Linked DNA regions of Homo sapiens: region 1 is linked to region 2. Evidence: fine-mapped expression QTL. A gene starts in region 2. The other region holds a variant in brackets. All regions are shown on one strand. Distances are from middle to middle.

Region 1 (2,908 bases), 130 kb after region 2:
GAAAGTTTAAAAAGATGCTTTGGTATCACGACTTATCAAATACACCTATACGGCAACTTTAGTTGCTGAAAAGCAATGCTGATTTTTTCTCACTGGTGGTCTCCTATAATCAATAAAGTACACAATTTCTGTTTTAAGAATACACATTTTTTCCTCAGGGTCTCAACAATTGAATTGTTTTGATTGAAAGAAACTGCAGCCTGCCAGGTGCGGTGGCTCTCGCCTATAATCCCAGCACTTTGGGAGGCCGAAGTGGGCGGATCACTTGAGTTCAGGAGTTCGAGACCAGCTTGGCCAATATGGCAAAACCCCTGTCTCTACTAAAAATACAAAAATTAGCCAGGCGTGGTGGTGCATGCATGTAATCCCAGCTACTCCAGAGGCTGAGGCAGGAGAATCACTTGAACACAGGAGGCAGAGGTTGCAGTGAGCCGAGATCATGTCACTGTACTTCAGCCTAGGTGATAGGGTGAGATTGCCTCAAGAAAGAAAGAGAGAAAGACAGAAAGAGAGGGAGAGAGGGAAGGAGGGAGGGATTACTAGTGATAACAACCTTTACACCAGAGTTGTTTCTCTCTTCTTCTGGTCAAAAGTCCATATTTATCAAGCAAAACGCTTAAGAGAAGTATTGGGGAATGACTGGGATTGACCATTCTGTCTGACAAGTCCTGTTTTTTGGAGAAGGCTCTGTTTTTTCTGGACTATTGGTCCTGCTTCTCTGGCTTAGAGGGATCCTGTTGATTCTCAGGTAGTGGGTGCTCAGTCCATTCTTCACAATAAAATGTGGGAGAATTCTCCATATACATCTCATCATGAGATGTTAGACATATTGTACCATTTTATTCCGTTGAATAAGTAAGTAATTGTCATTCTGGGAGGATTAAAATCCCAAGACCTGCCTATGGGCTGTGATTATTATTTTAGCTGAGTAGATTTAGAAGGGTGTTCTGGAGAGAGGGAACAGCTAGAATAACAACATGGAAAATACAATGTTGGCAGGACCTCAGGTTTGACTAGGAGAGTGACAGGAGATGAGGCAGTGGTATTTTGAGGGCCAGATCACGGAAGACCTTGCATACCCAGCCAAGGTTTGCTTTTATTTTATAGCCCAGTGTTTCCCTAACTCAAATAAGGCTCAGACCCCTTTTAAGAGAAACAATTCTCTCAAACCCCTGATGTTGACTTCTTATTTACATGAGAATATTACTTAAATAAATCCGTTCATAAAGCTGTGTGCAAAGTCATTATGCTTATAGTTCTTATAGCACTATAAAGTTGAAATTAATTTACAAATATTGTTTTGCTAAAATTAGATAATTGCTGTCAATTTCTTTCCTGTTTTTAACAAGGAGCTAGTTTTTGAACAGCTATCTGTTATTGTTGGGCCAATGAATCTGATAGTGCATCTCAATGTAAGAGTACTTTAAAAAATTTTTAAAGCAGGCCAGGCATGGTGGCTCACGCCTGTAATCCTAGCACTTTGGGAGGCCGAGCAGGCAGATCACCTGAGGTCAGGAGTTCGAAACCAGCCTGACCAACATGGTGAAACACCATCTCTACTAAAAATACAAAAATTAGCTGGGCGTCGTGGCATCCGCCTGTAATCCCAGCTACTAGGGAGACCGAGGCAGGCGAATCGCTTGAACCTGGGAGGTGGAGGTTGTAGTGAGCCAAGATTACCCCATTGCACTCCAGAGCGAAACTCCGTCTCAAAAGAAAAAAAAAATTTAAAAAGCAACGCTTCATACTAACTACTTCATACTAATGAAGTAA[C/T]GTAACAATGAAATAACAAGGGAAGTTGTTACCACAAAGGAAATGTGCAATGCTTTCCTTTATAATGATGAATGTGCAATATGACTGCTCATAACATGCCTATACTTCTGTGTACTTTAGGAAGACTTGGCTTCTCTATGAAAATATGTGAACCCTTTGGCTGTATAACATGCTGTCATGTCATCTGGCTTTCATCTGGCATTATTTAAAACTTAAATTCTCTTGTCTTCTAATTTGCCTGAGGCCATTAAAGAGTGCATTATTCTTTCACACTACATGGTTTCCATGATGTCAAATATAAAACTTAGGTTGGGCACAGTGGTTCACGCCTGTAAATCCCAGCACTTTGGGAGGCCGAGGAGGGCGGATCACCTGAGGTTAGGAGTTTGAGACCAGACTGACCAACATGGTGAAACCCTGTCTCTACTAAAACTACAAAAATTAGCCGGGCATGGTGGTGGGTGCCTGTAATCCCAGCTACTTGGGAGGCTGAGGCAGGAGAATCATTTGAACCCGGGAGGCGGAGGTTGCAGTGAGCCGAGACTGCGCCATTGCACTCCAGCCTGGGTAACAAGAATGAAACAATGTCTCAAAAAACAAACAAACAAACAAAACAAAAAACAAATATAAAACTTGATTTATTAACTAACTTTAAAAAAGGTCTTATTCCATGAAAATGCCTTTCATTGAAAAATTGAACTACAAAGGGAGCTTCTGTCTTGATAACTGTTAGAAGAATTCAACGTGAGTACCATAGCAGATATGGGGTGACTGTTAGCATGTGACATTAGTTCTAGACAAGCTAGGTAGAGGACGGTGTCAGGCTATTGCAGTAGAGCACTTCTGCCAATGAATGGACCACCATCTATCCAGTTCCACAACCACCTACATGTTACCCTTGACATTTCTTTCTCATTGCCCTGTATCTAATCTATCCACATGTTCTGTTGATATCACCTCTTAAATTTCTCTTGAGTTCATCTTTTTCTCTCCATCTTTTCCATCACAACCTTAATCCAAGCCACCATGATCTCTTTCCTACACAACAACAGTCACTCCTAGGTGGCCCCTTCTCTCCCATTCTAGTGGTCTCAAATTCTTTCCCAGTCTGCCAGCCACAGTGCAGTTTCCAAAA
Region 2 (2,908 bases):
CAGATGAACACTGGGGAGAAGAATGTCTCCTCTTGGCTGTGGGGCCTCAGCTCCAAAGAGCAGTGCAGGCCTCAGGCTAGGGCTGGAGAGGCAGCCTTCAGGCCTGGAGGGGCCTTCCCCACCGCCTCCAGGCCCAGCGCCCAGTTAGTGAGGCGGCAGGCAAGTGTGGGCGCCTCCCCCTCCCCCAGTCTCCTGGGAGTTGGGGGGGTTCGAGGGGGATCAGCCAGGCCCCCCTCTTCCCAGGCCAGCTGCTTCAGAACCTTCCGGCTCCAACATTCCATCCCCTCTTAAAGGGAAAGTGACTGCTTCCAAACTGTGCCTGTCCAGATCTCTGCAGCTGGGTGGAAGGGAAGACCCCACCAGGGAGGGGAAGATAGAGAACACCAAGAAACTCTTCCTGGCTATCCCACCCAGGCCCCAGGCCCTTCCTAACGTCTCTCCACTGGCCACCAACTGGAGGAAAAAAGCCCGAATTGGAGGAAAGATCAGCACCTGGGTCAGTGAGGACTACTCCGCAGGGGTCAGGCTCTCTGTTCCGGTGACAACACCCACAACAGCCCACAAAGGAGAGGGCAGGCAGCTAGATAAACATCAGATCTGCAGACCCCGCTCGCGGCCAGGCGCCCGAGCACCCCCGACACCCCTCCCCCAGCTCAAAGTCCCAGCAGAGCCCTCAGATGCAGCATACTCCAAATATGGCTGGGAGCTGTGCTGCTGAAAAGATGAAGGGGGCGAAGAACGAGGGCCACACGACCCAAGTCTGTGCGGAAAAAGGTGGCTCTGGCTCCTCGGCAGGAGGAGGATGGGGGACTCGGGCTCTGAAACTAGGTGGAGGGGGGGTGTGTCTGTCTCTGTGGGCCACTGGTCTCTGAAGAGGTAAGGGGACCGCACCGGCAGGAACTCTGATTGCTAGTGGGGAATTGGACGTCCCCTTAAACAAGGGAGGCCAACGTCCCCTCTTCAGAGGTAAACGGGAGTTGCTACTGGGGCTGGAACCAAAGGGGCCCAAATGGGCCGAGTCGCCCCTAGAAGTCAGAGCGGGGCTAGGAGCCGGTGTAGCGAGGCAAGTCGAAACGGACCGCGTCATCCCTTAGAAGCCAGAGCGGCCGGGGCTCCCGGAGGCGGGGCGGGGGCCATCCTCACCCGAAATCGTCGTCCATAGACTTGAAGAAGAACTTATAGCTGGGTCGCTGCAAAACGCCCTTAAAGTCCGCCAAGGTGACGCGCTCGGCGGGCAGGGGCAGCTTCACAAGGTACGGCGTCTCCTGCCCATCCAAGTGGTAGATGATCTTGGTCTCGCCCATGGCTCTGGCCTCGGGCCCGGCGGCCCGCGCGCGGCCTGCTCGGGCGGCCGGGCCGAGCCTCCCAGACGGCGGCGGCGCGCGGCGCGGCCCAGCGGCTCAACCCAGCTCGGCGGCTGCTGGCGGCGCCAGCTCCCTTGTTCTCCGGCCGCTACCGGGTCCCAGCGCCGCCCGCCGCCGCCGCGGCCGCCGCTTCCGCTCCCCACTCTCCCGACTGGACTGGCGACCGCGACTCTTCCGGTGGCCGCGGCCCTCCCGGCCCAGGGCTTCGTCCGGGCCCGCTCCCCTCCTCCGGCCCGGCGCGGCCCCGCCCCGGCGCGCCCCGCCCCCGGCCGCCGCGGAGAGGCGCCGGCGTCGCGGCAGATGGCAGGGTTTCCCGCCCACTGGCCGGGCCGCGGCGCTCCGGTCCCGGGTCCCTAGAAACGGAAGGGGAGATTCACCGGGATGGCGGCGTTCCCGGACCCCTGAAGGCCCTGACTCCGGACCCAAGTGGGATCGGCGACTCCTCTGCAGTCCAGGAAGAGTGGAATGCAGGGATTGCTTTGGTCCCCAGAAATGGTCTGGGGAAAGAGGGTGGGTCTGACTCTGGATCCCTGGAGGAGAATGACCTCAACATGGCCCTTCAGTGTTTCTTGAGAAGCACAACTGCTGTCACTGAGTCTACTAAACTGATCTCGAGAGAAGGACAGCATCCAGTTCTGATTCCTCCCTATAACCTTAGCGTCCAGTTGCAAGGTAGTGGTTTAATAAATGGGTTGAATGCGGAATAAGTGGGGCCCGGGCGCGGTGGCTCACGCTTCTAATCCCAGCACTTTGGGAGGCCAAGGCGGGCGGATCGCCCGAGGTCGAGAGTTCAAGACCAGCCTGACCAACATGGAGAAACCCTGTCTCTACTAAAAATACAAAAAAATTAGCCGGGCGTGGTGGCGCATGCATGTAATCTCAGCTACTCGGGAGGCTGAGGCAGAAGAATCGCTTGAACACGGGCGGCGGAGGTTGCGGTGAGCCGAGATCGGTGAGTCGAGATCCTGCCTTTGCACTCCAGCCTGGGCAACAAAAGTGAAACTCCATCCCCCCTCGCCCCCCCCCAAAAAAAAAGATAAGTGGATGCATGCATGCCTAAGACAGTAAGTCTCAAACCAGAACTCCAGAACTAGGTATAGCCGGTTCCTCACAGATCTCCTCACCCCTTAACTTTTAATTCATTTAATAAATACTGAAGGCCTACTGTGTATAAGGCATATCGCATGAGATATAGCGATAGCGAGACAGACAAGGCTGCTCTCAGGACCTTCCCTCAGCTGGAGGGAAGCACATAGGCTTGTAAATACATAACTTCAGAGTGACCACTGCTATGAAGAAGGTAAAACAAAGTGATGGGATAGTGACAGGGGAAGCCAGGCGCAATGGCTCATGCCTGTAATTCCAACATTTTGGGAGGCTGAGGCAGGTGGATCACCTGAGGTTAGGAGTTCGAGACCAGCCTGGCCAAAATGGTGAAACCCCGTCTCTAGTAAAAATACAAAAATTAGCTGGACATGGTGGCGCATGCCTGTAGTCCCAGCTACTCGGGAGGCTGAGGCAGGAGAATCGCTTGAACCCGGGAG

Evidence for each region. PIP is the estimated chance that this variant, and not a neighbour inherited with it, causes the effect.
Region 1: its variant is the best candidate, but not a certain one, in a credible set for the expression of DVL3 in whole blood (TOPMed, PIP 0.58).

What each region holds. Positions count from the first base shown.
Region 1 is chr3:184,021,428-184,024,335 of GRCh38, reverse strand. No RefSeq gene overlaps it. Among named protein-coding and RNA genes, the nearest start is that of ABCC5, 5.0 kb to the right of the region's middle. The variant C/T (reference allele first, on the strand shown) is at 1,774.
Region 2 is chr3:184,154,032-184,156,939 of GRCh38, reverse strand. DVL3 (dishevelled segment polarity protein 3) reads right to left here and starts at 1,563. Exons shown (of 15, transcript NM_004423.4): 1 at 1,144-1,563. The coding sequence starts at 1,304. RefSeq lists enhancers at 1-101, 102-979 and a silencer at 1,317-1,666.